4 separate regions of the Homo sapiens genome follow, and all the other regions are linked to region 3. The links come from fine-mapping of genetic effects on gene expression. A gene starts in region 3. Each other region holds a variant in brackets. All regions are shown on one strand. Distances are between the middles of the regions.

Evidence for each region. PIP is the estimated chance that this variant, and not a neighbour inherited with it, causes the effect.
Region 1: its variant is fine-mapped to the expression of SUMF1 in whole blood (TOPMed, PIP above 0.99).
Region 2: its variant is fine-mapped to the expression of SUMF1 in whole blood (TOPMed, PIP above 0.99). The same link has a PIP of 0.9 or more in fetal neocortex.
Region 4: its variant is fine-mapped to the expression of SUMF1 in lung (TOPMed, PIP above 0.99). The same link has a PIP of 0.9 or more in aorta, esophagus muscle, fibroblasts, gastroesophageal junction, pituitary and tibial artery.

The regions. Positions count from the first base shown.
Region 1 is chr3:4,358,347-4,366,432 of GRCh38, reverse strand. It overlaps SUMF1 (sulfatase modifying factor 1), which reads left to right. Exons shown (of 9, transcript NM_182760.4): 9 at 4,179-5,287. The coding sequence ends at 4,289. Among named protein-coding and RNA genes, the nearest start is that of SETMAR, 59 kb to the right of the region's middle. The variant T/C (reference allele first, on the strand shown) is at 4,807.
Region 2 is chr3:4,300,273-4,308,379 of GRCh38, reverse strand. SETMAR (SET and mariner transposase domain methyltransferase) reads right to left here and starts at 5,011. Exons shown (of 3, transcript NM_006515.4): 1 at 4,854-5,011. The coding sequence starts at 5,009. It also overlaps a transcript of SUMF1 not described here. RefSeq lists enhancers at 4,574-4,643, 4,672-5,414 and a silencer at 4,734-5,073. The variant T/A (reference allele first, on the strand shown) is at 3,803.
Region 3 is chr3:4,463,647-4,471,753 of GRCh38, reverse strand. It overlaps SUMF1 (sulfatase modifying factor 1), which reads left to right and starts at 4,485. Exons shown (of 9, transcript NM_182760.4): 1 at 4,485-4,778. The coding sequence starts at 4,509. LOC124909340 (a long non-coding RNA gene) reads right to left here and starts at 4,930. Exons shown (of 2, transcript XR_007095789.1): 1 at 4,246-4,930; 2 at 2,355-3,090. RefSeq lists an enhancer at 4,259-4,438 and a silencer at 4,609-4,788.
Region 4 is chr3:4,441,617-4,449,723 of GRCh38, reverse strand. SUMF1 (sulfatase modifying factor 1) reads left to right here. Exons shown (of 9, transcript NM_182760.4): 3 at 384-458. Among named protein-coding and RNA genes, the nearest start is that of SUMF1, 22 kb to the left of the region's middle. The variant A/G (reference allele first, on the strand shown) is at 4,059.

The DNA of each region.
Region 1 (8,086 bases), 110 kb after region 3:
AGAAAAAAGAATAAAAAGAAATGAACAAAGCCTCCAAGAAATATGGGACTATGTGAAAAGACCAAATCTACGTCTGATGGGTGTACCTGAAAGTGACGGGGAGAATGGAACCAAGTTGGAAACACTCTGCAGGTTATTATCCAGGAGAACTTCCCCAATCTAACAAGGCAGGCCAACATTCAGATTCAGGAAATACAGAGAACACCACAAAGATACTCCTCGAGAAGAGCAACTCCAAGACACATAATTATCAGATTCACCAAAGTTGAAATGAAGGAAAAAATGCTAAGGGCAGCCAGAGAGAAAGGTCGGGTTACCCACGAAGGGAAGCCCATCAGACTAACAGCGGATCTCTCGGCAGAAACTCTACAAGCCAGAAGAGAGTGGGGGCCAATATTCAACATTCTTAAAGAAAAGAATTTTCAACCCAGAATTTCATATCCAGCCAAACTAAGCTTCATAAGTGAAGGAGAAATAAGATACTTTACAGACAAGCAAATGCTGAGAGATTTTGTTGCTACCAGGCCTGCCCTAAAAGAGCTCCTGAAGGAAACACTAAATATGGAAAGGAACAACCGGTACCAGCCACTGCAAAATCATGCCAAATTGTAAAGACCATCGAGACTAGGAAGAAACTGCATCAACTAACGAGCAAAATCACCAGCTAACATCATAATGACAGGATCAAATTCACACATAACAATATTAACTTTAAATGTAAATGGACTAAATGCTCCAATTAAAAGACACAGACTGGCAAATTGGATAAAGAGTCAAGACCCATCAGTGTGCTGTATTCAGGAAACCCATCTCACGTGCAGAGACACACATAGGCTCAAAATAAAAGGATGGAGGAAGATCTACCAAGCAAACGGAAAACAAAAAAAGGCAGGGGTTGCAATCCTAGTCTCTGATAAAACAGACTTTAAACCAACAAAGATCAAAAGAGACAAAGAAGGCCATTACATAATGATAAAGGGATCAATTCAACAACAAGAGCTAACTATCCTAAATATATATGCACCCAATACAGAAGCACCCAGATTCATAAAGCAAATCCTGAGTGACCTACAAAGAGACTTAGACTCCCACACAATAATAATGGGAGACTTTAACACCCCACTGTCAACATTAGACAGATCAACGAGACAGAAAGTTAACAAGGATATCCAGGAATTGAACTCAGCTCTGCACCAAGCAGACCTAATAGACATCTACAGAACTCTCCACCCCAAATCAACAGAATATACATTTTTTTCAGCACCACACCACACCTATTCCAAAATTGACCACATAGTTGGAAGTAAAGCTCTCCTCAGCAAATGTAAAAGAACAGAAATTATAACAAACTGTCTCTCAGACCACAGTGCAATCAAACTAGAACTCAGGATTAAGAAACTCACTCAAAACCGCTCAACTACATGGAAACTGAACAAAAATGACTACTGGGTACATAATGAAATGAAGGCAGAAATAAAGATGTTCTTTGAAACCAACAAGAACAAAGACACAACATACCAGAATCTCTGGGACACATTCAAAGCAGTGTGTAGAGGGAAATTTATAGCACTAAATGCCCACAAGAGAAAGCAGGAAAGATCCAAAATTGATACCCTAACATCACAATTAAAAGAACCAGAAAAGCAAGAGCAAACACATTCAAAAGCTAGCAGAAGGCAAGAAATAACTAAAATCAGAGCAGAACTGAAGGAAATAGAGACACAAAAAACCCTTCAAAAAATTAATGAATCCAGGAGCTGGTTTTTTGAAAGGATCAACAAAATTGATAGACCGCTAGCAAGACTAATAAAGAAGAAAAGAGAGAAGAATCAAATAGACCCAATAAAAAATGATAAAGGGGATATCACCACCGATCCCACAGAAATACAAACTACCATCAGAGAATACTACAAACACCTCTACACAAATAAACTAGAAAATCTAGAAGAAATGGATAAATTCCTCGACACATACACTCTCCCAAGACTAAACCAGGAAGAAGTTGAATCTCTGAATAGACCAATAACAGGCTCTGAAATTGTGGCAATAATCAATAGCTTACCAACCAAAAAGAGTCCAGGACCAGATGGATTCACAGCCGAATTCTACCACAGGTACAAGGAGGAACTGGTACCATTCCTTCTGAAACTATTCCAATCAATAGAAAAAGAGGGAATCCTCCCTAACTCATTTGATGAGGCCAGCATCATCCTGATACCAAAGCCGGGCAGAGACTCAACCAAGAAAGAGAATTTTAGACCAATATCCTTGATGAACATTGATGCAAAAATCCTCAATAAAATACTGGCAAACCGAATCCAGCAGCACATCAAAAAGCTTATCCACCATGATCAAGTGGGCTTCATCCCTGGGATGCAAGTCTGGTTCAATATACGCAAATGAATAAATGTAATCCAGCATATAAACAGAACCAAAGACAAAAACCACATGATTATCTCAATAGATGCAGAAAAGGCCTTTGACACAATTCAACAACCCTTCATGCTAAAAACTCTCAATAAATTAGGTATTGATGGGATGTATCTCAAAATAATAAGAGCTATCTATGACAGACCCACAGCCAATATCACACTGAATGGGCAAAAACTGGAAGCATTCCCTTTGAAAACTGGCACAAGACAGGGATGCCCTCTCTCACCACTCCTATTCAACATAGTGTTGGAAGTTCTGGCCAGGGCGATTAGGCAGGAGAAGGAAATAAAGGGTATTCAATTAGGAAAAGAGGAAGTCAAATTGTCCCTGTTTGCAGATGACATGATTGTATATCTAGAAAACCCCATTGTGTCAGCCCAAAGTCTCCTTAAGCTGATAAGCAACTTCAGCAACGTCTCAGGATACGAAATCAATGTACAAAAATCACAAGCAATCTTATACACCAATAACAGACAAACAGAGAGCCAAATCATGAGTGAACTCCCATTCACAATTACTTCAAAGAGAATAAAATACCTAGGAATCCACCTTACAAGGGACGTGAAGGACCTCTTCAAGGAGAACTACAAACCACTGCTCAATGAAATAAAAGAGGATACAAAGAAATGGAAGAGCAATGTATTTTTAAAAAGCAATGTTGTCCCACAGCCTTTCCTATGTTTGATGTTCCTAGACTTGTTGTTTAATTTTTTGCCGATCTACTGGCATTAAATGATATCATAAATATGATTTAGATAATAAATAATATCATAAATATTATTTAGGTATTAAATGGTGTCTTAGTGTTGTTCTTAGTATTTTTTCAGTGGCCATCTATCACTTATTACTTGGTTTAATTTCAAAAATTAATATATATTCTTATTGTATTGGAATACTGAATAGGTTTCATATAGGAAACATGAAACTCAGATTGCTTGAGGGATAACTACTGTGCACATTGTGGTGCATTCGGAATCTTCCAGTCTTTTCTTCTTGGCACATGTAGTTATCTACACTGTGGTCATACCACATATACACCTTTATATTCTGCCTTTTTCATTTTAACTGTTTTTTTTTCTTTTTTTGGACACAAGATCTTGCTCTGTCACCCAGGCTTTAGTACAGTGGCTCAGTGATGGTGTACTGCAGCCTCAAACACCCAGGCTCAAGAGATCTTCCCACTTCAACCTCTAGAGTAGCTGTGACTACAAGTGCACACCACCATGCTCAGCTAATTTTTTGTAGAGATGGGATCTTGCTGTGTTGCCCAGGCTGGCCTCGAGCTCCTGGCCTCAAACAGTTCTCCCATTTCAGCCTCCCAAAATGTTGGGATTACAGGTGTGAGCCAGTGCGCCTGGCCTCATTTAACATTTTATCATGAAAACTTCCTGTGTCATTAAATACTATGTAAAGACATGACTTTCAATGGCTGCTTACTTTTCTATTATATGGATGTGCCTAAACTTAGGCAATCATTGGTTGTTACATTTTTCTTTTTTGCTGTTATATCTAATGCTGAACATCTTTGTACTATATCCGTGTTACATTTATAAGGTGAAGGACGTTGGAAAATATGTGGTTAGTTCTTGAATGTGCTGCCCTTTTTAAAGCATACATGTTAAGTATCCATACAGGCAGGGTTGTGGGGAAGCACTGTCTACAGCCGGTGCAATATGCATCTGATGGGTTAGAGCCTTCAGCTGAGAGTCCCAGTAGCACTTACCTTGCTCTTTCTCTCTACACAGTCTTATTGTTACAGGTATCGCTGTGCTGCTCGGAGCCAGAACACACCTGATAGCTCTGCTTCGAATCTGGGATTCCGCTGTGCAGCCGACCGCCTGCCCACTATGGACTGACAACCAAGGAAAGTCTTCCCCAGTCCAAGGAGCAGTCGTGTCTGACCTACATTGGGCTTTTCTCAGAACTTTGAACGATCCCATGCAAAGAATTCCCACCCTGAGGTGGGTTACATACCTGCCCAATGGCCAAAGGAACCGCCTTGTGAGACCAAATTGCTGACCTGGGTCAGTGCATGTGCTTTATGGTGTGGTGCATCTTTGGAGATCATCACCATATTTTACTTTTGAGAGTCTTTAAAGAGGAAGGGGAGTGGAGGGAACCCTGAGCTAGGCTTCAGGAGGCCCGCGTCCTACGCAGGCTCTGCCACAGGGGTTAGACCCCAGGTCCGACGCTTGACCTTCCTGGGCCTCAAGTGCCCTCCCCTATCAAATGAAGGGATGGACAGCATGACCTCTGGGTGTCTCTCCAACTCACCAGTTCTAAAAAGGGTATCAGATTCTATTGTGACTTCATAGTGAGAATTTATTATAGATTATTTTTTAGCTATTTTTTCCATGTGTGAACCTTGAGTGA[T/C]ACTAATCATGTAAAGTAAGAGTTCTCTTATGTATTATTTTCGGAAGAGGGGTGTGGTGACTCCTTTATATTCGTACTGCACTTTGTTTTTCCAAGGAAATCAGTGTCTTTTACGTTGTTATGATGAATCCCACATGGGGCCGGTGATGGTATGCTGAAGTTCAGCCGTTGAACACATAGGAATGTCTGTGGGGTGACTCTACTGTGCTTTATCTTTTAACATTAAGTGCCTTTGGTTCAGAGGGGCAGTCATAAGCTCTGTTTCCCCCTCTCCCCAAAGCCTTCAGCGAACGTGAAATGTGCGCTAAACGGGGAAACCTGTTTAATTCTAGATATAGGGAAAAAGGAACGAGGACCTTGAATGAGCTATATTCAGGGTATCCGGTATTTTGTAATAGGGAATAGGAAACCTTGTTGGCTGTGGAATATCCGATGCTTTGAATCATGCACTGTGTTGAATAAACGTATCTGCTAAATCAGGCTTCACCGTCATCAGCTTCTTTTCTCTTTCTCTTCTTTATGTTTTCTTTTAAAGAGAGGACTTTGTGATATGCGTGTTTTATTTGCTAGAAAACGTTCATGTTTGTTAGCTAATGGATAACTTTGATATGTGGGTAATTTGTGGGAATTTTTGTTCCAAAAAGCAAGGCTATTCCACCAGTAACCCTATCATGACCTTGCTGCTTGTTGCCACAGTAGATAATGCCAAGTCAAAGGCACTGCCTCACTTGTGGTCTTGTAAAACCCAGCATTTGCTTCCCATGCCGGGAAAGCACCTTGTTTTAGAACAATAGCTTTCAACCTAAGGTCCCTGTTATCAAGTTCCCATCCTGATTCCTCAGTCCTGAGAACCCCTAAGCCATTTCTTGCATGCCATTTGAAAGAAATGTTTAAATCAAATAATATTCAAAAGTGTCTAACCAACACTTGAATGCTACTTTTGTGCTTAGCCTCTTAACATGTTAAAACAATTCCCTTGAAAAGCAGTCATGTAGGCCAGGCCCAGTGGCTCACACCTGTAACCCCAGCACTTTGGGAGGCCAAGGTGGGTAGATCACTCAAGGTCAGGAGTTCGAGATTAGCTTGGCCAACATGCCAAAACCCTATTTCTACTAAAAATACAAAAAATAAAATTTAGCCAGGAGTGGTGACACTTGCCTGTAGTCCCAGCTACTCAGGACTGAGCCAGGAGAATTGCTTGAACCTGGAAGGCGGAGGTTGCAGTGAGCCGAGATCGCGCCATTGCATTCCAGCCTGGATAAGAGAACAAGACTTTGTCTCAGGAAAAAAAGAAAAAAAAAAAAAAGTCATGTAGCTGGCACGTTTAGCCACATTTGTGGTTCATTTTGTAGATATCAAATGTTTCTCTACAAACTTCCACCTACTGATGATTAATCCCAGGCAAAAAAAAAAAAAAAAAAGAACAAACATTGGTAGCAAATAATTAATGTAGGAAATAAGAGATTTTATTTTTAAAGTCACCCTACTCCAGTACAGTTTGTTTTTACTTGTTACCTCCCGCCTGCATATATTTTTTACATTGTTATATTTATGGTGTGTCTATTTTGAATTCTTGTCTTGTTAATGTTACATTGCGTAAGTATTTTTGGTGTTTTGGGTGTACTTTTTAGAATTGCATTTCTAGCAGCAGCATAATACTGGAAGGCATTTAAAATGAATTCCTAAGTTGGGGACGGTGGCTCATACCTATAATCCCAGCACTTTGGGAAGTCGAGGCGAGAGGATCGTTTGAGGCCAGGAACTTGAGACCAGCCTGGGCAACTGAGATGGTTTGACTGCGTCCCCACCCAAATCTCATCTTGAATTGTAGTTCCCATAATCCCCAGGTGTTGTGTGAGGGACCTGGTGGGAGTAATTGAATCATGGGGGCAGTAACCCCCATGCTCTTCTTGTGATAGTGAGTGAGTTCTCACTAGTTCTGATGGTTTTACAAGGGGCTTTTCCCCCATTGCTCAGCACTCACTGTCTCTCCTGCCACCCTGTGAAGAGGTGCCTTCCACCATGATTGTAAGTTTCCCCAGCCATGTGGAACTGTGAGTCAATTAAACCTCTTTTCTTTATAAATTACCCAGTCTGGGGTATTCCTTCATAGCAGTGTGAACACGGAGTTATAACAGCAACAAAGCGAGACCCCATCTTTACAAAAAATGAAAAATCAAAATTAGTTGGGCATGGCAGTGTGTACCTGTAGTCCCAGCTACTTGAGAGGCTGAGGTGGGAGGTTCGCTTGTGCCCAAGAGCTCAAGGCTGCAGTGAACTATGATTGTGCCACTGTACTCCAGCCTGGGCAACAGAGCAAGACCCTGTCTCTAAAAATGAATACAATAAAATGACATCCTAACAAGCCGTTTATTTAAGAACTACATGTCTGGGTTACCAACTAAAGAGTACCCTAAACTATGGATAGCTATAGTCACTACACTTTATAATGTTGGATAGTGACATACGAGCAGACCAGCAAAATGGGACTAAGAAAAGTTCGGTTTGAATGCCATAGGTGTAGTCCTGAAAAGCCTCACTTTCTGTGACATTGTACACAAAACATAGAGGCATACGGGGAAAATTGGGGTAGAGGCAGATTACTCAAAACTTAAGGAACTTTGTACATTGTACCACAGCACTAACAAAATAACTATCCTAACAAAACCAGTAGCCTAATTCAATCTCCACTGGCATTTGCAGCCAGCATTACAGCCAGTTGATCCTTTGCAGCCTTAAGTTTTGAGGCACCTTCTTTCTTCTCCAAGGTGTAAGACCTTCAGGACATATGCTTCTAATGGAGATCACGTCCATCAAAAGTAAAAAATCTGATCTGGGATGTAGATTTCTCCATCAGTCGACTTTAAGGTGGGCAGTGTCTTTGCAGCATCTTTATCTGCACTGTCAGTTTTTCAGAGCTTAACACACTGGAAAGTGTAGCAGTTCTTGAAGCCACTAAATAAATCACTAGATGCACTAAAAGAAGGCACTTTCATGGTATTAAATTTTTTTTTCCTGAAGGTCTTCATATATTGCTAAGGTTTTCTTTAAAATTATGAGAAGGTTTGTGCCTGCTTGTTTCAAAACATGTTTTAAACCACATGTGATCCAACATGACTTCCACATTCTACTGTCCTCCATTCTCTGTTTATTAATCACTTGTGAGCTATTTCTGCTTTAGATAAACAGTTGGAGCCGAGCAGACCGTTTGGTCGATGTGCCAGTTGCAGTATTAAAAAACTGTTTTGTTTTTTGTTGTTGTTGTTTTAGGAACTCTTAC
Region 2 (8,107 bases), 160 kb after region 3:
TGAAAGAAAACATGACAGAACTGGCTTAAAAAGCTTACTCTAGGGATTAGCATGTACGTGTTCAATAAAAATTTTGCAGGTAGTGCATAGTAGGGTAGTGAAGAAAATAAGTTCTGGAGTTAAACTTTCCAGGTTCAAACATATTCAAACCAAAATTGTGTCTAGGAAGCCATCGGACTGTATACCTTTCCTCCATTACTTCTCCATTTGAGTGGAGAAAAGCTAAGAGCTGATCCAGACTAGACTTCTTTCAGTTATCAAGTATTACCTTACTGTCTGCAATATGCACATACTGGGATTTAGAAACAGTCAGAAAAGTATAAAGGACACGGAGAATGGGATTTTTTTTTTTTAAGACGTTGCTGCCCAGTCTGGAGTGCAATGGCATGATCATAGCTCACTGCAGGCTCCAACTGCTGGGCTCAAGGTCAGCCTCCCAAGTAGGTGGGACTACAGGCATGCACCACCATGTCTGGTTAATTTAAAATAAAATGTTTTTGTAGAGATGGGGTCTCACTTTGTTGCCCTTTGTTAAGGGTGGTCTTAAACTCCTGACTTCAAGTGATTCTCCCGCCTTGGCCTCCAAAAGGGTTGGGATTATGGGAGTGAGCCACCATGCCTGGCTGGGATTTTTTAAATTTCCTGCATTGTTACAATGTAAGTTTTACTTTTTCTTCGTATGTATCAAAGCACAGAATTACTCATGCAAGAGCTAGGAATAAATGCAAAACAATCACGGCAAAATGATATACTGGAAATCAGATCCTTGAAGCACTGGGTGAAGATTTCAAGTTTTTTGACAGAAAACTTAAGAGAAAATACACTCTTGTCTTGGCTATTCCTGTCTGCAACAATTTCTTTCTTCTCTGAACTAGACTTACATTTACTGTTAATAGCATGAACTTCAGGGTCTAAATGACACAGATTGTAGGGCTCTCTAATTGTGTTAAATGTGTAGGTCTTACCTTTCTAACAGATACGTGTCTCAGGGAAAAGCATGGTTATGAGGTTTCGAGTGTGGCATGGTGATGGGGGTGGGGTTCCTATCCATAGGACAAGGCACACAGCAGGTGCTCAAGAAGCATTTTTCGATTGCCAGATTGCAGCTCTTGATACTTGTTAACGAGAAGTTTGACTTTTCTGAATCACATTCCGTACTGAAGACCCAGAAACTGAAGTATGATACTGTAACATTCTAGGCTTAAAACCTGGGCCTCTGAATTATAAAGAAGTGTTGTGAAAATCTTCATTCCTTTTTTGGTTGTGTTGAAACCCCAGCTACAAGAATCTTTGTACTTGGCCTCTAGCCTCATAAGTTTGTTTTTCCTCCAAGCAGCTATTAGAAGACTGTGAGCCAGATAATTCTTGTCAAGGCCTGTTGAGATCTAAAAATAATGTTTGAAGCTGGTTTCAGAGACCTGAAAAATGGTTAGATCCAACTGTTAGCTCAATAAAATCAATTAGTTTATTTTCTACTTGGCTTTCAACACTGATGACATTATGATATGCTTGTTTCCAATATGAACATTTGAATTTCTTTTTGCCTTTTCACACAGTAGCCAAAGGCAAAACAGACACAAAGTTATTTTTATCTTGAAAGTTTTTCATGCCTTAATTCTTATGTGTGCATATGCCTGTGAAGGCAGGGTTTGGAGCAAGCAAGCTGTTTTGACCTTTTATAAGACTGGTTTTGTGTTCCATGAATACATGGAAGAAAACGAGTTGAATGCACTTTTAGGCTTGTCACTTAAATGTTTCAAGCATGTTTGATCTTCTTGGTAAGAAAGACAATAAGCTCTCTTAGGAAGGCATCCTGTCTTATTTTTGTAACTCTAACTTTATTGGGAGCTGTGCATATACAGAGATAGTTAGAACACTGTGGGACTGGGTTTTAATCTCCCAATTTTCATTTATGCCCACCAACTGTAGATGTAACAATCAATCACAAAGCTTCCTCTTGTCACTCCTTTCTCCCCTTTTAAAAATAGACGTATTTATTTTAATATACACTTTGAGAAATAGAAAACCTCATGATTTTATGGACATTAATGATTACAATGATTCTAAGGGAGATACTTATATAATTTATTTTTAAATAATTTAACGCTTAAAGTGAGTTAATTAAAAAAATACGTCGGGCACATAGTTTTACAGATTGTTCTTGGATATGGCAAAGAAAAATATGACTCAAGATTGGAAACAGATTTATAGAATAGTCTCAAACGCACACACACACGCACGGCAGGAATATTGAAGCTAATCGTGACAGTTGTAAACACCTTGAGGGTAGAGTGCGTTTTTCTGTTTGTTGTATTCTTTGCAGCCCAACCCACCACCTTGCATATATTTAGCTCTCAATAAATATTTGTTGAATTAAGAATGGACTAGAACAGTGGTTTTTTAAATCAGTGTTTTTGACCAGGAACTCAGCAATGCTTAGTCCTAAGTTTTCAGGGACCACTGTTTAATATTGGGCCAGCTAACTGTATTATTAACTATAAATTGCCAAAGGTAGTCTGGGGAACAATAATAATTTCTGACATTAATATCTTATTCTACTCTTTGAGGACTAAACTCTGATTTTTTCTTATCTTGCCCAAATTCCTACCCAAGGCACCTGGGGAGTCATGCCTTACAAACCATAAAGTCTCATCAGAGGAGTTTTAATTTTAACCCTATATAGCATGGTCTGCTTTCTACCTGACTCTGGCATAACATCAAATAACAAATAAGGGAAGAAATCAAAATATTTTAACCCCAAATATATTTCCTTGCCATATCTTGAAATTGCCCTGGAGGGTTGTCTCTTGTGGGAAAAATCCACATTCTATAGAGAATCCCCTTTCCCCCTCTTTTTCTTTCTTTCCACAACAAGGAGATAATCAACTAAGACCGAGGCACCTTTTTAAGTTAGATAAGAAACATTTTACAACCTGCTCCCTCTGAAGTCAGCTGGGAGTCTCCTCCCCACAATTAAAACTTGGGTCTCTACATGGCCGGGTGCGGTGGCTCACGTCTGTAATCCCAGCACTTTGGGAGGCCCAGGTGGGTGGATCACTTGAGGTCAGGAGTTTGAGACCAGCCTGGGCAACATGGTAAAACCCTGTCTCTACTAAAAATACAAAAATCAGCTGGGCGTGGTTGTAGGCGCCTGTAATTCCAGCTACTCGGGAAGCTGAGGTGGAAGAATCGCTTGAACCTGGGAGGCGGAGGTTGCAGTGAGCTGATCGCACCACCACACTCTAGCCTGGGTGATGGAGTCAAGCTCCGTCTCAAAAAAAAACCCTTTATCTTAACCTAAACATTTCTATTGATCCCAGGTCTTCAGACAAACTCAACCAATTGTTAACCAGAAAAATTGTTAACCAGAAAAATTAAAATCTACCTATAGTCTGGAAGCCCCCCCCACCACTTTGAGTTGCCCCGCCTTCTGAACCAAACCCATGTACATGTTAAATGTATTTGATTGACGTCTCCTCTCTCCCAAACATGTATAAAACCAGGCTGTGCCCTAACCACCTGGGACACATGTTCTCAGCATCTCCTGAGGGCTGTGTCACAGGCCATGGTCACTCATATTTGGCTCAGAATAAATCTCTTCAAATATTTTAGAGTTTGATTCTTTTCCTTGACATCTTTGAAAGCTGCTATTGAATCTCTTATCTTATCTGATCCTCACAAAAACCCCTAGGAAAAAGAAAGGGCAGATAGGGTTCATTGTTGATAATGGATGTTAAAGGGGCTATGCATTTTTAAATTATTATTTTCATTTTGCAGATGAAGAAACTCAGGCTCTGGGAAG[T/A]AGCTAAGATGTCTAAGCTCCGAACCATACTCTCCAACTTCCACGTCCAGCGCTCTTTCCACTTCAAAATCTTTGGTCATTCCTTATTCCTTGGGTAACGCTCAGGCCAAGGTCGGAGGGATAAGAAAGTCAGTAGAGGCTGGGAGCGTGGCTCATGCCTGTAATCCCAGCATTTTGGGAGGCCGAGGCGGGCGGATCACCTGAGGTTGGGAGTTCGAGACCAGCCTGACCAACATGGAGAAACCCTGTCTCTACTAAAAATACAAAAATTAGCCGGGCGTGGTGGCCCATGCCTGTAATCCCAGCTACTCGGGAGGCTGAGGCAGGAGAATCGCTTGAACCCGGGAGGTGGAGGTTGCGGTGGGCCGAGATCGCGCCAGTGCACTCCAGCCTGGGCGACAGAGCGAGACTCAGTCTCAAAAAGAAAAAGGAGAGTAGAAAGGGCTTTGAGGTAGTTAATAGAAGCAAACATTTACTGAGTTCTTACAGCAAACCGGAAAGTGTATTTTCCTTGCCATTTTCAAAGCACTCCGGAAGAGAGGTACTGTTCCACTGTACGCTGGAAGACTCTAAGGCTGAGCCACAGCTAATTTACACTCGCCCAAGAGCCCACAGCGTGAGGGAGACCACAGCTAAGGCTGACTCGAGGGGCTGTTTTTATGCACGACACCGGCTGCGATCCATTAATAGGCCCCACGGCTTATCCTACCTGTGAGAGACACCTGAGACCAGGGAGGTAAATGACTCCCCCCGTGATGCCTCCTTGAGTTCTGAGGACAGGACTGGACAAAAAGCCAGGTTCTCACAAGGCCTCCGGTTCTGCGCTTCAGGGAATGGACTGAAAAGGACAACACCCTTGCTAAGGTGATGCCGTGGGTCAACAGAAAAAGGCCCAGGCCGGGGCATGCACACCTATTCCCGCGCACCAACGGGTGCGCTGTAAGAGAAGACAAAAGGTCGCGACTGGGAGGCCGTCCCAGCGAGGCGGCTTGAGGAGACCACGTGGGGGAGCCGCGCGCCCGCCTCCCGCGCCGCCTGGCCCCGCCCCTACCTGGAAGGGCGCCGGCGCGGCCCCCGGGGGCCACGCGCCCACCGGCAAGTTTTCCTGGCCGCACGCGACATCCAGCTGCTCAGTCGGGGCCTCAGGCTTCTCCTTAAACTCCGCCATCCCACAAGGCCGTGTCGTCTTTGCCGCTTCCGCGAACATTTACCCGCCTCACGCAACGCCCACTACCCTGACAGTCCTGGGCCGCGCGGTGGATGCTGGGACTTGTGGTCCCGTGGCCCCACCGCCTCATGGGAATTGTAGTTCGTTTCTTCTCAGGAGTGGCCTGGAAGGCGCTTCCCTTCCTTGACTTTTTGGGTCTGGCTCCCGTTTTGATTTCAGCCAGAGGCACCACAGATAATTACAAAACCATGTAAGGTACGGACGAAACAAAGTGAGGTGCTTTAGTTTTTCCTGGGAGCATCAGAGAGGGGGCTTTCGAGGTGAGGTCATTTGTCCAGGTTTTTGAGGGCTCACTGCACGTTTGTGGAGTGGAGGCAGGGGTGCGTTCTAAACCGAGCGGGGAAACGCACACCAAGGTTTCTAAAGGTCTGCGGCTTGCCGGGAAGTTGACTGACATGTGATAGGGTTTGTGCCAAGGCGATAGCCTCACAGGGTGCCTTAAGGAATTTGTGTGGGGGCATGCTCACTCCCTGATGGAGGTATCCGTGCCCCTTTGCCTGTCCTTTTCCCTCCTCTCCATCCCTCTACCCTCACCCCTCCAAACCCCTGCCCTGCCAAAGGATTCTGATAGCCTCAAGACTGCTGAATCCGGTGGAGCATTTTCAACCTCACTGAAGCTCTCTGACATGATTGTCCTGCTTCTCCTTGAAACTGTAAACCAAAAATAAAATTCCAATCCTCCAAACCATCTGAAGGGACCCCTCCTCTCTGCCAAGGTTAACCTGAGAAAGTGGTTCAGGCCATGATGGGAAGGGGGGTCCAACATGCCTCATTATGCCCTTCTTCCTTTTGGAATTCAGGAAAAGCCAGCCAGCATCAACATCAACACACACCTTAAGTCTGATAAGAAACATTTACAATCTGTTCTCTGAAATTTACCTCTTGGAGGCTTCATCTCCACGATCAAATTTGGTATCCACAACCTCTTATTGCAACCCAGACATTCGTTTCTATTGATTTTAGGTCTTTAGATAATAACCAGTTGCCAATCAGAAAATCTTTAAATCTACCTATGACCTGGAAGCCACCCCTCACCCGCTTCTCGTTGTCTGCCTTTCCAGATCCAACCAATCTTACATGTATTGATTGATGTATTATGTCTCCCTAAAATGTGTGAGAGTAAGCTGTATCCCAACCACCTTGGGCACATGTCATCAGGACTGCCTGAGGCTATGTTGGGGGCGCATTCTTAAGCTTGGGAAAATAAACTTTCTAAATTGAGACCTGTCTCAGATAATTTTGGGTTCACAAACCCTTCTGACCTTGCAGCTTCTGAGGTCCCATTGGCCTAAATGTGTTTCCATCTTGCAGACCTTTCCTTGTTAGTATCCTCTTGTTGTTTTCCTGCCTGACTGTTTCTGAAAAGTGGGTGTGATTCAGGGTTCTGCCCTTGACCTTTTTCTTTGCTCCCCTTCCCTGAACTTTCTCATTAATAACATCCACTCCCATGGCTTCAAATATAAAGGATTAGGTCACCAGTCTCCAACCCAGATCAGACGTTTCTCCTCAAATCCAGTTACGCATATTCAGCTAATGATTGAGCATTTCTGTTTTCTGTCCTACAGGCTCCTCAAACTCAAAATAATCTGAATTGACTTCTTCTGCCAGTCTTGCTTTTTCTTCTTTAAAGTTAACTGGGAAAATAATTTGTGATCTACAGAGCCACTAAAGCAACAAACCAGTTACTCTGTATTCCTTCACTTCACTAGACTCATATAGCTAAGGACGTGGTGGGTAAGTCTTGTTGATTCTGCCTTCATGTTCTCATTTTTGCCTCTTCTCACTTAGTCCTAGGCTCTCTCATTTCTTGCTTGGACTTTGGAAGTTCTTTGCTTTAAGTCTGTCATTCTCCATATCCCCAAATCACCCTTACTGCCGCTGCTACAATGACCTTTGAAGATCCTTGTCCAGTTATTATATTTTGCTGCTTAGATTCTTATTTGCTCCATTTTCTCTCAAAGTTTACCTTCTATATTCTGTCTTATGAGCCTTTGAGGACCCAGACTTTACCTATTTCCTTGGTCTCTTTTGCTGCTGTTCTCTGTTGGAACCCCTTGTTCTGTTGACATTCCCTCAAAAAGCCATTCTACTTGGGCCTCTGGGCCTTTGTCCACATTGTTCTTGTATCTCCAGTGCCTTTACCCAGGACTGTCTGTCTGCTCAGCTCAAGTAGTCCCTTCTCTGTATCTTTCTTTACCCTGTTTCCCTTAGCATTGGTTACCCTCTTTACATTAGTTCTCCTACTTTATAAGCCATTTCTTATGTTCCCTGCAACTATTTAATGTAAGCACAGGCAAAACCATCTTATTGAACTCATAAAAATTATATATATATATATTGGTGGAGGGTGGGGAGATAGATAGATAGAGAAACATTTTGTTTTAACTTAAATGATTTTGGTACATTTATATGCTAGTCTTTTGATGTAGGGCCAAAAGAGAAGGAGAGCTAGAGTGTGTGTGTGTGTGTGTCTCTGTATGTTTGTTTTCTACTGATTAGAGCTCCAGGTCAAGCTTACTCTGAGTTCCAGTTTTGGTGTCTTTAAAGTGGGGTGGGAACTAAAGGATAGTGAAGCAATGGGATATCATGATCTGTTTTCTTTCCCTAGTCTTTTATACTTTTCTCACTCACACCCACTTCAAGGGCAAAACATTTTTTAGTGACTTGCTTTTTTTTCTCCAAGTCTTTACAGAATGTTCTACTTAGTTATCCCAGAAGGGAGAAACTCTTTGCACTCATAGTTCATCATCCTTTTTTCATAAAATTATAATAACAGTTATACCTGGCATTAATAGGTTTGAGAACAGAAATTAAAGATCAGCCTTATAAATGTGCTATTCATGAGCATGTATAAAATCACATAATTTTGCACTGCAGTACACATCTGATATAAAAACTTTTTTGAGTACACATCTGATATAAAAACTTTCTTGTGTTGCTGTAAAGAAATACTTGAGGCTAGGTAATTTATAAAGAAAAGAGGTTTAATTGGCTCATGGCTCTGCAGGCTGTACAGGTAGTATGGTGCTGGCATTTGTTCGGTTCCTGGGCAGGCCTCAGGAAGCTTTGAGTCATAG
Region 3 (8,107 bases):
ACATCTAGGTGGATGGCCCTGTGAAATGTGGCTCTGCAGACTCCTTTGGGACCCCAGAGGGAGCTCGCAGAGGTAGCCTCCCTACTGAGAACCAGTAGTTTCCACATGTGGAAAATACTGCATATACCAGAACTTTTTTTTTTTCCTGCTTAAAAACAACAGCCTCCCACCCCCAAGAAAGTGCCTCTACATCCTCTTGTGGCTGCCAGGTTATAGCCAGGGTCAAGTTTCAGTATAACCTGGCTGAGGGTAGGCTGGGCCTGATAAAGGACAAAGAGATTTTACTCTGAAGGAGGTGGAAGAATGAACTACGTCATGGAGAAATTGGACGGCTCATACATTGTTAGTGGGAATGTAAAATGGTACAGCCACTTTGGAAAAGTCTGGCAATTCCTCAGAAGGTTAAACAAGACCAGGAGTGGTGGCTCACACCTATAATCCCAGCACTTTGGGAGGCCAAGTCAGGAGGATCACTTGAGGCCAGGAGTTCGGGACCAGCCTGGGCAACATAGTGAGACTTCATCTTTACAAAAAAATAATAAAATGACCTGGACGTGGTAGCAGCTTGTGATCCTGCAGGCTGAGGTAGGAGGATTTCTCAAGCCCAGGAGGTTGAGGCTGCAGTGAGCTGTGATCATGCCACTGCACTCCAGCAATCCAGCCTGGGTAGCAGGGCAAGATCCTGTTTTTTTTTTTTTTTTAAACCCAAACCCAAAAGGTTAGAATTTCCATATGACCCAGCAATCCCACTTCTAGTATATATGAAGACAAATGAAAACATGTGCAAACAAAAACTTGTACATGGATGTTCATATCAACATTATTCATCAAACCCAAAAAGTGGAGCCAAGTGTCCTGCACGTGTGAAGTAGATAACATTTTGACTTGTGCCTTTCCTACTCCAAGAGCCTCAGGCAGCATCACTGTCTGAGGGCTTTCAGAATGCCTTATGCATAGGCATATATTCCTACACCACATGACATCTGACCGGGGACCCACTTCACAGTGAAGGAGGTGCAGGGGTAGGCCATGATCACAGAATCCAGTGGTTTTATCCCTTACAATACGAACCCAAAGCAGCTGGCCTCATAAAGGGTGAAAATGGCTTACTGAAAGCACAGCTGAAACGCCAGCTTGGATGCAATTTCCTGCAAAGATGGGGCCATCTATAAGGATGCAGTATACGCCCTCAATTAGAGATGTCAGACTTGTTCCCACGTAGGAAGAATATATAGGTTCCACCAAGAGGTGGAAGTAGAAGTAGCCCCACTTACTATTACTCCTACTGACTTACTGGGATTTTGTTCTCCCATCCCTGCAACTCTGAGCTCTGCAGAGCTGCAGGTCCTGATCCACAAAGGGATGCTGTCTTTCTGTGGACACAACCAGGGTCCCATTGAACTACAAGCCATGGCTACCATCAGGGCACTTTGCATTCCCTGTGTTCAGGAACCAGAAAGCAAGAGAAGCCTCTAACCTGGAGGGAAAATTGATGCTGCTCAGCAGGAAGAGTGTCAGATGTCTTCTCAAAACTGCAGTGGCACCAACTTTCACAGTAAAAGCTTACCAGAACATCCATGACTTGGCCCAATGTTACCTTTCTGTTCTCCTTTCATCCATGACTTGGCCCAATGTTACCTTTCTCATCTCCTTTCCTTTCTTCTCTCCCCCTTGCTCACTCCACTGTAGCCATGCTGAACTCTTTGATGTTCAGTGAGCAGACAAGCTGCTTTCAGGACTGGGGTCTTTCATCCTCCCAGCTTCATGAGATAGAAGGAGCAAGAAAGGCTACAAAATGCAGAAGGAGCTCACACGTGAGACGGAGGGTGAGAGATATTTTATATAATTACACTAATTCGTACGAGCTGATGGCTGAGTTGGACTTTTTACCTCTTAATTTTTAGAACAAGCCTCCTCACTGACAGGAGCAAAATATTAGAGTGGAAAATATTGATGAGAAATCTCTCATCGATCTCATACTCATTGATTATTGACTAAAAAGTTAGCCTGAGACAAAAGAATGATCGTCCTGGAGAACCAACAAAGTTCCATCTTTCATAATGATTAGTAATAGCAAAGTTATTTTTGAGATATGTTAAATGTCAGGTACCAGGCTACACCTTTTATATACTTTGTGTTATTTAATCCCCATAAAATCTATAAGAAAAAGGAATTATTATTCCCATTTCACACACGAAGAAATAGAGGCTCAGAAAGCTGAAATAATTTGCCTAGGTCATACTTCATGTAAAGTGGCCAGCTTTAACCACAGCTCTTTGTGAGTCTAAGACCTATATTATTTTCTCCACAATTTGATTCCCCTTAAGAGAAAGAGATAATCGTTACTTCATTTGTTCATTCACTTATCCATAATTTAATAAATGTTCACTGAGTGATCATGTGCAGGCTTGGCCTGATTTTGCTGATACAGTGGCAAACGAATAGGCTCCTGCCTTACCTTCATGGAGGTTATAGCCTAATGGTATAGCTGGACCAGGAATCAAAGAAGTTCAGGTCTCTGAAGCGCAGCTGACACAGCATGTGCTGAGACTGATATTTGAAGGAGGCGAACAAAGATTACCGTTGACCTAGACCTTGACTATATATTATGCACAGTAAATACATACAACCTTGGTTAAGGCATTGACCTTTTAGCTTCATCAATTTTGAAATGAGTATAGTAATAATACATTTCTTGCCAAGTGGTTGTAATCTCAAATGAGAAAATGTGTGAAAGGCCTTGGCAAACTGTAAAATAGTCAACAAGGAGAAAAGGCCTTTTTTTTTTTTTTGAGAGATGGTCTCACTTTGTCACCCAGGCTGGAGTGCAGTGGCACAATCATGGCTCACTGCAGCCTCTGCCTACCAGGCTCAAGTGATCCTCCTGCCTCAGCCTCCGAAGTAGCCAGGACCACCGGTGTGCGTCACCATGGCCAGTTAATTTTCTTAATTTTTTGTAGAGACAAGGTCTTGCTGTGTTGCCCAGGCTGGTCTCAAGCTCCTGGCCTCTAGCGATTCTCCTGCCTCGGCCTCCTAAAGTGCTGGGATTACAGGCTTGAGACACGGTGCCTGGCTGGTCTTTTCTTTATGCTAAAAAAATTCAAACAGATGCTACATTAGAATAGTGCAATAAACACCCAGATGCCCATCAACCAGCTATGACAGTTATCAACTCATGGCCAATCATGCTTCATCTTTAGCCAGACCCTGATTACCCATTTTTTGGGAAGCAAATCTTTGACTGCCTATATTTTTATCCATATATATATATGTGTGTGTGTGTGTGTGTGTGTGTGTATACCTCAGTGAGTGTGTGTGTACCTCAGTGAGGGGATTCTTTTAAAAAATATAGCCACAAATACCATTATTACTCCTAAAAGCCTAAAAACAAAATTTACAGCAATTCCTTAATTTTATCAAATATTATAATTTGACTTAGTGGTTAAATTTCCCTGATTATCTCAAAAATTTTGAACTCAGTAGGTTTGAATTAGTATTTAGATAAGGTTCACATATTGCAGCTGGCTGCTATGTTTTTTTTTTTTTTTTTTTTTTCAGATGGAGTCTTGCTCTGTCCCCAGGCTGGAGTGCGGTGGCGCCATCTCGGCTCACTGCAAGCTCCACCTCCCGGATTCATGCCATTCTCCTGCCTCAGCCTCCCGAGTAGCTGGGACTACAGGCGCGTGCCACCACGCCGGGCTAATTTTTTGTATTTTTTAGTAGAGATGGGGTTTCACCGTGTTAGCCAGGATGGTCTCGATCTCCTGACCTCGTGATCCACCCGCCTCGGCCTCCCAAAGTGCTGGGATTACAGGCTTGAGCCACCGCGCCCGGCCTGCTATGTTGTTTTTTAATCTGTAAGTTTCTCCTTCATCTTCTTTTTGTTTTGGTTTTGCATTTTGTTCGATTACGGAACTGTAGAACAGTGGTTCTTAAACTTAAGTGTGGATTAGAATCATCTGGAGAGCTTGTGAAACCCTGGATTGCTGTGTCCAGTCCCCACGGATTCTGATTCCGTATTGTATTTCTCTTTTTTTTTTGAGACGGAGTCTTGCTCTGTCGCCGAGGCTGGAGTGCAGTGGCGGGATCTGGGCTCACTGAAACCTCCGCCTCCCAGGTTCAAACGATTCTCCTGCCTTGGCCTCCCGACTAGCTGGGACTACAAGCGCGCCATTACTGGGTCTTTGTGAGGATTAAATGAGATTTTAAAAAGTGAAGTGCTTAGCATAGTACTCTGGCACTTACCAAATGCCCAGCAAATTTGACTGTTATTTTTCAACCAAGAAATCATAAAGGGGTGCACGGTCTGTGGAAGGCCTTGAGTTTTGTGGAGTTTTGTGTTTTGCTGCGTTTTGACGTTAGCACAGGCAAGCAGCAGCGCCAAAGAAGTACCTGAAGAAAGGTGAAGAGCAACTCTCCTGGTCACTTCGTAAGTCAGCTCAAAATTCTGCCCCTTTAAGGAGGGCTCAGCCACGTGACCAACCGGGTCACATGGCCCGCGGGACAACATGGCTGCGCCCGCACTAGGGCTGGTGTGTGGACGTTGCCCTGAGCTGGGTCTCGTCCTCTTGCTGCTGCTGCTCTCGCTGCTGTGTGGAGCGGCAGGGAGCCAGGAGGCCGGGACCGGTGCGGGCGCGGGGTCCCTTGCGGGTTCTTGCGGCTGCGGCACGCCCCAGCGGCCTGGCGCCCATGGCAGTTCGGCAGCCGCTCACCGATACTCGCGGGAGGCTAACGCTCCGGGCCCCGTACCCGGAGAGCGGCAACTCGCGCACTCAAAGGTGCTCCATCGATTCCTCCGAGGCGGGTGGGGGCTGCTCGGTTCCTGGACGGGGTTGGAGTAGGCAAAGCAAGGCACTAGTAGGAAGGGAAGTAAAGGTTATAACCACACCCCAAATCGAGCACCTGCTGTTCCCGTATGAGGAGTTCCTTCTCCGTGCCTCACCGGAAGACTCCATTTAATTGACCATTAGGGAGTTTGGTTTGAGGGTTATTGTTACTTCTTTACCCCCTATTTCTTTCTCCCTCCAACCTGTTCTCTTAATGAGGATCTCATAATTTTAAGGCAATCAAATTATGGTTTAAATCACCATTTCCTCTCTTATTAACGGAATAAATTAGGATCCTGGGTCTCAGTATCTTCACCAGGGTTGTTGTATACTTATCTGTAGTCTCCTCGAGTACACTCTGCTTGAGGACAAGGGCTTGAATTGTTTATCCTGCTATTCTTAGCACTTTAGCACTTAGGAAGGGCTAAGCAAACTGTAGTTGTTTTATTGCTATTATTTATCTGTCTTGCTTAGCGCCTGTATGTGTTAGGTGCCGGGATATATAAATAACTTACTGGCCGGGCGCGGTGGCTCACATGCCTGTAATCCCAGCACTTTGGGAGGCCGAAGCGCGCGGATCACGAGGTCAGGAGTTCGAGACCAGCCTGGCCAACATGGCGAAACCCCGTCTCTACTAAAAATACAAAAATTAGCCGGGCGTGGTGGCGGGCGCCTGTAATCCCAGCTACTCGGGAGGCTGAGGCAGGAGAATTGCTGGAACCCGGGAGGCGGAGGTTGCAGTGAGCCGAGATCTTGCCACTGCACTCCAGCCTGGGCGACAGGGCGAGACTCCGTCTCGAAAAAAAAAAAGAAAGAAAGAAATAACTGTTACTTCAATCTGTCTGCCCGGTATTTTGCATATTGATGTGTTGTCGAAACAACTTATGGGTCTAAAGGTCAGGTCTTCTGACTCCTAAACTAGTGCTCCTTCTTGTTTACTTAGCAGACACTATCCTTTTCCCATTCCATTTTTCTTTCCTTTGGGTTAATCCTGACCAATATTTAGGACTTAGGTGAGAGGTAACATCCACAGTAGGTTTTACCTGATCTCCTCTTTCTCTCCCCTTCAATATTTCCGTATCCTGCCTCAGTAGTTATGTGTTTATTCTGACATAACAATTATTAAAGATGTTTTTCTGCTGATGTCTCTCCCCAACTGGACTGTGAGGGTGATGGGGTCAGGACCATGATTTAGTCTCTCAGGTGTAGAGTGTAGGAGGTTGATACCTGGGCTTCTCATTGTTTTTCCATCCTGTATAATTTTTGGCCTTTACTTTTTTTCCTGTTACCCTTAGAGCATGTCCTGCAGTACTGTTTATCTTTTGTGTGTTGAAGACTCCTGATTACTGTTTTAGTGTGTATTGGCCATACTTGATATTAATTCCTCTCTAACTTGCCTGGTAATTGATAATCAATCTCTCTTTCTTTTTTCTTTTCTTTTTTTTTTTTTTAGACGGAGTCTCGCTCTGTCACCAGGCTGGAGTGCAGTGGCGCGATCTCCGCTCACTGCAATCTCCACCTCCTGGGTTCGAATGATTCTCCTTCCTGCCTCAGCCTCCCAAGTAGCTGGGATTACAGGCACACGCCACCATACCCAGCTAATTTTTGTATTTTTAATAGAGATGGGGTTTCACCATGTTGGCCCGGATGGTCTCAATCTCCTGACCTTGTGATCCGCTTGCCTTGGCCTCCCAGCGTGCTGGGATTACAAACGTGAGCCACCGCGCCAAGCCAGTCTGTCCCTCTTTCTAAGGAGAAATCCTTACATCTGTTTATCTATTTTTTAATAGGGCAGCCATCTCATTTGCATATATACATTGGTCTGTCTCAAAATTTTATCTAGATTCCTCTGGCAAGCATTGAACATTTTTCATTTTTAAACATTCTATTTTCCTCTGGGTTCCAGAATGGGATGTGGATGTTAGAATCTTTTGGATTACATTTACAAGATGTACATTTTTCATCCCTATAGAGTGGTTTTGTGTCTTGACTGGATGCTATATGGGCCATCTTTGGCCAGTTCTTATAGTCTGCTTTCTACAATGCTTAGGGGCATCTCAATTTATTAACAAATTAGTGGTTGATGAGAATATACCTTCAAGCCTTCAAGGGCTGAACTTAATGACTGAAACTGAAGCAGTCTTGTTATCAAGACAATGACGTCATAGGAGGCTGTTCTTAATCTCTCTATTTTCCTTGGTTTCAAATGTTTTAGTTCATGTGCAGATGACTTTGGTCTAATTCTGACACTTTACCATTTATTCTAAATTCAGGAACTCCAATATTTCAGGAGAAGTAAATGAGCATAGTGGTGTTTCTGCCTTTTTTCCCCTCTTTGTTTTCTGTTTATTTGGTTTAATTAAACAAATGTTTATTTGGCACATTACTATATAACACTTGTTATGTAAGATTCATCCTATGTGCTGGGCATACAGAAAAAGACCCATACACTACCCACATGGCATTTACACTCTGGTAGGTGTTTCTCTCTCTCTCACACACACACACACACACAAACACACACAGACACACACATAAGTATCATTTTTCTATAGTGAGAATACTATAGGAGGGATATGTCCAGAGTACCTGGAGAGGAAGAAAGAATTAATTCTTCATGGACAAGTCGAGTAGTGCCTCAAAAAAAAAAAGGCCACATTTGAGCTAGGCCTTGGAGGAAATATTTTTCGGAGCTGGGAATGGAATTCCAGATTCAAGGACATTCCAAGAAGGAGAATAGTATCAACACATGGCACATTGTGGAAATGCGTGGTGTGTGCTGGGAAACATAAGTGATTTAAGATCTGGGAGTGACATGTTCACACTTTTTAATGTAACACTTTTTAGATGAGTCTTTTTTTGTTTTTGTGTATTCATACAATGAGTGTGTGTGGCAAGGTGAGGGGCACAGAGAAATAACACTGGGCTTTGCCCTCAAGAAATTTTCAGTTTCACTAGAAAGTTATGGCGATTAGAATTGTCTGGGAAACAATATAGATGTTTAAAAATTTAATGTGTATTCCCTCTGGTTATAAAAATATGATTCTCATTGAGAAAATTATCCTAATAGTTTTCTGCGTGGGTTATGATTTTGTAACAAGGAAGCAAAATGTTTTAGTCTGCTTTTATCTTTTAGAAGAGTTATTTGAAAGGCATTTAGGATCATGGGATGCTAAGATTGTAGGTGGCATGTCTGTACATATGGATAAAGTCAGTCTTGATTTCCTGTCTGAGGAGGTTTCTGACTGGTAATGCTTCCCTGGGCAATGAGGCACAATCGA
Region 4 (8,107 bases), 22 kb after region 3:
TTCGTTTAGCTAGATTCAGGACAAAGGACAAAGATTGATTATGTAATCTCACACGTACAGAATACTATTTCCCAGAGTCATTTGTGATACTTGGGGAAATGTATTTCCTTCAAGAACAGTCACGTTCTCAAAAGCTAATCTTGTTCAGTCTGCATTCTTATCAGCTAAGTGAGTCTTAAACGAAAATGGTCTCTGTAAGTGACATTAATTTAAGAGGAAGCCAGAGACTTTTAGGTCATTTCTGAGTCCTCTGGGAAGTCATAAGAAAGACTCAAGTTCAATTGGACAAGAGGAATCACTTTAATAGTGTGGAGAGAAAAGGGCACACATGCAACACATTACTACAACCTTTTCTGGATTTTTATTTCCTACCTTCCTTATAGGCTGAGAAGTTTGGCGACTCCTTTGTCTTTGAAGGCATGTTGAGTGAGCAAGTGAAGACCAATATTCAACAGGCAGTAAGTAATGTTTCAACAGGCTCCTGTATTTCTCTAAGGCTCATTGAAAAGGGTTTGGGTGAAAAATCCAAACCACATGTGTCACCTTCCTCTCCCTGTAACACCTAACCATTCTCCTGCTGAGGATTGACCCCAAATAATAGGCCCATGGACCAGGACACCTTATCTTAAGGAAAATGGGACAAGATGGTATCTGAGGAAGTGATGGGTCTGCCTTGAGTTTCTGTCTTGTGTGCCAAGGAACACACAGTGTTGCTAGGTAGAGCTCAGTAGGCTCCAGACACTTCCGAGTTTCATTTACTTATAGCCATTTCTAGAATGGAGGGCTCAATGAGAACATTTTAAAATTCTATTCTAAAAGTCTCCATCTCCTCAGGTGCTGGTGTGGAGATAGAGCTTCCTTAAACATTTTTGAATTCATGGGATCAGAGTAGCACTCAAGAAAGGAGCCCTTTGTTCTGAATGTTCATGAAAAATGGAGGTGGTGAACTGGTTCTTTACATGCAGGGGTGTACCCTCCCATATGGAGGATCCAGGGAATGCAGATGAGGTGTGTTTTTCTCAGACATGGAAACAAACGGTGGAGTAGATTTTCACAAGCAGCTTTGTGATGAGTGGAACTTGGGATTCTTGTTCCAGACATTTTAGCAGGTTTGTGTATGTTGGAGTATTTGCTTGCTTACATGTCTCTTGAAAATATAAGAACAAGGGAAGGAGTGAGGGTAAGCTGGGAAGTTGAGGGTTCACAAAACAAAGAGGGTAGAGAATGCAGAAGGGATAGGAGATGGTGAGAGAGGGAAGGAAACGGGGGTCTGCCCACTCCAGGGAGGCTGATGAAGCTAGAGGCATTGAAGACGAAGGAATCCAGCCCTCATCTTCCTTTTTAATGCAAGTTACCTTTTAGCTCCTGTCTGCGCTTCATCTCTGTGGGTGGGCCTCACTCTGTCCTCTCGTGAGCAGCAGTGCAGTGCAAGAAAAACGAAACTGTCCTGGCTTATGTTTGCTTTCTCTTTAATATAGAAAAATGTGGGGGAAACGGTGAGGTAAAACAAGACTTGCTTTCAGATCATATATAGGTGAATTGAGCCACTTTTTAATATGTGTTTTAGATAAATGTTTGAAAAATGTGATTGAGCTCCATTCGAATTTCACAGCTTTCTTTGCTCCTTACAAGTTTATAAGTCTAATATGTAATCTGATATTCCCCTCCGCCCTACTTTTTTTTTTAAAGGGCTTTGAGGTCAGTTGAGGCTGGTGTTGATTAGCCAGCAGCTTGGGACATGTGCCTTATTTTAAGATACTGAGTTCAGGTGAGGGTGGGCGTTTGCGCTTATTTTTGTAATTTGCCTTTTCAGATACAGGGCCTCTTGTCACTTGAGAACCTCCAAACACATTAGGTATGAAGACAGAGGTGGGTCATTGCTAGGCTGTGAAGGTGCCTGTTGAGTACATAGTAAAGTGTGTGTGCTTGTGACTAGGATGAGGACAGGCAGCTCTCACTGGGTTGTAGTGTTGGTCACTTGCTTAACTGCTGATAATGGAAAAGCAAACCTTTTAAGCTTATTTAGAAAGGGCTGAACAAGTAACATAAATGTGTCAATGATCAGGGAGAGCTAAGTTTTTGTTTTTTCATCCTCCTCATAAGGTCTGACTTACCTTCATTCACTGCACCAGACCTTTTTTTTTTTGTAACCCAGTGTCTCCAGAAGAGTAAGATGTGAGTTGGCCTACGAGGTAAATTTGAGCAGTAGGGGAGATGATTTTGGGTGGTAGATTGGCAAGCCTCCAATCTCACTGAATCACATAGTGAGAAAGCACTTTCCTTTTAGGTGTCTTTCAAGACTTGATTAAGTTAGAAAGAAAGACCTGAATCTTGCAAGTTTGAGTGCTAGCATATCCTTAGTACTTGACTACACTTTTACTCTCCTTTTAACATAGAAGAGGCCTTGGAAGTGTCCTCAGGCTACCACAGCTAGTTAATAATATGGTTTATTTTCATGTAATTATTTTAAGTGTTGCATTCTATTTATGACAGGTTATAAAAGCGAGATAAATTCTCCTTTTTTTTTAAAAAAATCTTTTTTTGGTAAAATAAGACAAATACAGAAAATCACACAACACAAATGTACAGCTTACTGAGTTATCCTAAGGTGAACGTACCTGTAAGCATTACCCAGGTCCAGAATTAGAATTTTTCTGCCTACCCCAGCAGCCCCATCCAGGTGCCACATCCTAATCATCACCCCTCTCTGTCCCTAAAGTAGCCAGTACCCTGCTTCTCAAAGTAGACACTTCTTTGCATTTCTTTATAATATTATTACCCAGGTGTACATGCAAAGTTTAATCTTGCTAATTTAAAGGAAATTTGTGTCTTTTAAGACTCTTCTACAGGTTTCCCTTTCATTGTGTTGCTTCCCCTTACCCCCTAGTTTTTCCTACAATGATTTATCTATTGAAGAATCTAGGACATTTAGCCTGGAGACTTTCCTGCAGTCTGGATTTTGCTGAATGCCCTGTCATGGTGCAGTTCATCTGTTCTCTCTGTCCTCTGTATTTCCTGCAAGTTGGTAGCTGGATCCCCAGGTGTGATCAGACTCAGGTTTGAACCCTACAGTAAGACATCAGATAATTGGTGGGTTCTTTCCCCATGAGGCACCTGATGTCTGGTGCTTCTTCTTTTTATAATGTTAGCGGCTGTTGATGCTTAGTACCTAATCCATTAATCCATTGGGGGCTATCATAAGATGGTGTATTAGTCTCTTCTCGTGCTGCTAATAAAGACATGCCCAAGATTGGGTAATTTATAAAGAAAAAGAGGTTTAATGGACTCACAGTTCCACATGACTGGAGAGGCCTCATAATCATGGCTGAAGGTGAAGGAGGAACAAATGCACGTTTTACGTGGTGGCAGGGAAGAGAGTTTGTGCAGGGGAGCTGCCCTTTATAAAACCATCAGATCTCGTGAGACTTATTTACTATCATGGCAACAGCACAGGAAAACCTGCTCCCATGATTCAGTTACCTCCCACTGAGTCCCTCCCATGACAGGTGGGATTATTGGAGCTATAATTCAAGATGAGATTTGGATGGGGACTCAGCCAAACCATATTAGATGGTGATAATCTAATCTTTTTCATTTATTAATGGAGATACTTTCATAAAGAGATAGTTCCATCATCTACTATTTCTTAACCATTGTTGCAGGTCATACAGGACAGATAGGATAAATGCTTGATTCTTTACTAGCTTTTAAGATAATGAATTGGTTCCCTACTGTTCTTCAAAGGTGACCAATTAGAGTATTTTTTGATTAAATATTTCATCTTAAGATAATTATATGTTCTCATGCAGTGTAAGAAATAATACAGAGAGATCTGGTGTACCTTTCACCCAGTTTCCTCCAATGGTACCATCTTATATAACTATAGTACGGTTTCACAGCTGGAAAATTGAGCATTCATATGACCCACTTGTTTTTGTCTGATTTCACCAGTTTTATATTATTCATTTGTGTGTCTGTGTATATATTTAGTTCTGTACAATTTTGCCACAAATGTAGATTTGTGTAATCACTGGATTTAAAAAAGTCTTCATGAACTC[A/G]TGGATTTAAATATATTTTATGGCCAGGCATGGTGGCTCATGCCCACAATCCCAGCACTTTGGGAAGCCGAAGCAGGATGTTCACCTGAGGCCAGGAGTTCAAGACCAGCCTGGGCAAGAGAGAGAGAGAGAGACCCCATCTCTACAAAAAATACAAAAAATTAGCCAGGTATGGTAGCATGTGTTCATAGTCCTAGCTACTTAGGAGACTGAGGTGGGAGGATCACTTGAGCCCAGGAGTTCGAGGTTTCAGTGAGCTGTGATGGCACCATTGTACTCCAGGCTGGGTGACAGAGTGAGACCCTGTCTCTGGGGAGAAAACAAAACAAAACAAAAACAAGCCATATTTTATTTTACACTGAAACCATGATCCCTTTTGAAGGTTTGGGCATATCTTTTTTTCCAACAGCTTTATTGAGATGTAATTTACATACCATAGGTTTTACCATACTAAGTGTATAATTCCATATTTTTTATATAGTCCAGTTTCACAACTAGAAAGCTGACCATTGATACAACTCACTTATTTTGGGGTTGTATCAAAAATTTATCTATATCATTACAATCTAATTTTAGAACATATCTATCAGCCCTAAAAGAAACCACATGCCCATTTGTGGTCATTACCGATTCCCATCCCCAGCTTTAAGCAACTGTCCTGAGTCCTAGCAGTGCTTCAGTCCTAGTAGTCCTTCATGGCTTCATGGCTTCATAGCTTTGCTTTTTGTGAGGCCAAGATCTGCTCCCTCCCCTACCCCTCATCCTTAAAGCCATTTCTTTAAGAAGCTCTAGTATCTTGTAGTAGAAAACAGTATTTCGAGGACCCTGTCTAGGCCCTGGGTATGCTCATTGCTATTAGGTTGGTCATTGTTTCTAGGCCTCTGCAGTGGACAGACTGAGATAAAATGCCAAAATGAGTATACACTGATACTTCCATTTTGTGATTTTTAGTTTAACCTGTTCTGTATTACATCTATCTCCTTTCTTCCACAGCAGGAATACTGGTTTTCAAGGACACAGGGGATGATAGACTAGTCTATAATCACGCATTTATTTTATCCCAGGTTACATACACAGTGGTCTCAATAATACTAATGCTACCATCCCCAGTGTAATTACTGAGAATAGGTTTTTAAAACTCCCAAACATTTATATATGCTTTTCCTGTTTCTCCCCTAGTTTTAAAATACTGTACTATTTCTGTATTATTGAAACATATGTCCATTATAGAGAGTACTCTTTCCATTTTAGCTCTCAACTAATCTCAGTTCTACAAGTGACTATACATGTTTAATACTCTCTGTGATCATGTCTCTCTAGTCATTTGAATTGATCAAGCTCATTCTCAACTAGATTCTTCAGGAAGTGGCCATGGGAACAATATGCCCTGAGTTTTTGCCCGTTGATAACAGTTTGTTAGTGCTCTTTATACTTTAAAGTCAACTTTTCTGGATATGAAATCTTTGGTTCACATTTATTTTTCTTGAGTAGCTCACATACTTTATTTTTTTTCTTTTGGAATAAAGCATTGCTATTGAAAAGCCTGATGGTAATCTGATTTTTTTCCCTTGAAAATTAGTTGTTTTTGCCTGAATACCCAACGATTTTCCTTTTTCTTGTTCTTTAGTATCCAGTGATTTCACTAGACTGTGTGTTGGTGTTTGTCATTGGGTCAGTATTCTCAGGTATGGGGTAGAAGCTTTCAATATCTAGTTTCACAATTTTTTTTTAAACTTCAGGAAATTTTTCTGTTATACTTTTTACTATTTTGTGTGTCCTTTTGTTTTATTCTTTAGGAACTTCTTATATCTTTCTTTACATAATTCTTTTTACCCATTTTCAGTGTTTATCACTTTCTTTTTAATCATTTTTTTCTCTCTCTTTTTTCTTTTTCTTTTTTTGAGAAGGGGTCTTGCTGTGTCACACTGGCTGGAGTGCAGTGGCACGATCTTGGCTCACTGCAGCCTTGACTTCCTGGGCTGAAGTGATGCTCCCACCTCAGCCACCCAAGTAGTGGGGACAACAGGCACATGCCACCACACCTGGCTAATTGTTTTGATTTTTAGTAGAGATGATGTCTCACTATTTTGCCCAGGCTGGTCTCAAACTCCTGGGCTCAAGCAATCCTTCCACCTCAGCCTCCCAAAGTGCTGATATTACGTGCATCAGCCACCATGCCTGGCCTCTTCTTTTTATTTTAATTTTTTCTTCTCTTTTGTCTTCTGTGTCTTTTAATTATCTGTTTATTTCTGAAATGACTTTTTATTTTATTTCTAGTTGCTACTTGACTTCTCTACCTCATCTGAGTTTGTGGATTCTGATTTATTTTGTTCTCTCTTGCATCATTTTCTTCATGCCATTTACCTCATTTTTTAAATTTTTATTTTTTGAGACAGAGTCTGGCTCTGTCACCAAGGCTAGAGTGCGGTGTGCAATCTTGGCTCACTGTACCCTCCACCTACTGGGCTCAAGCAATTCTCCTGCCCCATCCTCCTGAGTAGCTGGGATTACAGGGGCCCGCCACCACGCCCGGCTAATGTTTTGTATTTTTTAACAGAGACAGGGTTTTGTCATGTTGCTCAGACTGGTCTCGATCTCCTGAGTTCAGGTGATCCATCTGCCTTGGCCTCCCAAAGTGCTAGGATTACAGACATGAGCCACCATGCCCGGCCTACCTCATTTTAAAACACCATGTTGTGATTTTTTTTTTTTTTTGAGCATTTCTTCCTGACTGCATTTGTTATTCATAAGGATGTTGTTCTGCTGCTTCTTCTCTTACTTCTTATAGAAATTTGGATTGCATTTGAGCTTGAGTCTTTTCTGTTGCTCATTTGCATTTGAACTCAGTTTTTCTGAACTTTTAGAAAGAGACATGGTTCAGGGTAGCTTTGTAACTTCACTGAACTCCCTCTTAGTTGTTCTCAACATAGTGTTTAAACGATGGCCTCCTGTCTTCTGAGATGTCCTGGATTTCTTCCCCTCCTCCACTACTTCTCTTTCCTTTTTCTCTCTCTTTTTTTTTTTTTTCCTTTTTCTCTCTTGTCCCTCTATTTCAGGAGTTTGGTTTTGTCTCTTGAGATTTCTCCTTGGTGTGAGGCTCTATTCTGGAAGGGAACCCTGGCAGGTCAGTTTCAAGAGTTCATGGTGGGGAGGCCGAGGCGGGCGGATCACGAGGTCAGGAGATCGAGACCATCCCGGCTAAAACGGTGAAACCCCGTCTCTACTAAAAATACAAAAAAAAAATTAGCCGGGCGTGGTGTTGGGCGCCTGTAGTCCCAGCTACTCGGGAGGCTGAGGCAGGAGAATGGCGTGAACCCGGGAGGCGGAGCTTGCAGTGAGCCGAGATCGCGCCACCGCACTCCAGCCTGGGCGACAGAGCGAGACTCCGTCTCAAAAAAAAAAAAAAAAGAGTTCATGGTGCACAACTGTTTGAGTGCCTTCACACGTTCTTACCATGGGCCCCTTAAACCTACTCCTTATTGGAGTGGGCAAAATTCCTTCCAGTGTGAGCTACTGTTGTCAAACTGTCCCTCCATGCTTTCCAGTAATGCCTGTTGGCTCTTTTGGGATTTTCCTTTTCACAGGTCTGATTTCCTGTTGCTTTCTTTTCTTTCTCCTGCCCAACCACTGCCCAGCCACAGACACCATGCAGGTTGTATGGCCGTTGGCGGTTTTTCTTCACCTGTTTGCGTTCTGGGTTTGGTGAGGATACTTTGTCACATGGATTTGCTGTGCACATTGTTCCTGGGTTTTGGGTATTGCTCTCTAGTTGTTCTGTCTGGTTTTATACGTAGAGAGGCGAGATTCAAAAGCTTTGCTGATGCTGTTGCCATCTCAGCTAGTTTTCTTTTTATGTAGTTTTGAGGTAAAACATTGAGCTAGCTTTCAGAGTTTGTGTGTAAAAATATCTTAAACTGGTGAATTTAATGGTTTAAAACAGAGTATTATTATCGAAGTAATAATCATGAATTAATCATGAATTACTCATGATTATTATTTGGACGTTTAATTTGAGACAAGAATCTTAAAAGGTATAGATATTAAGTCCC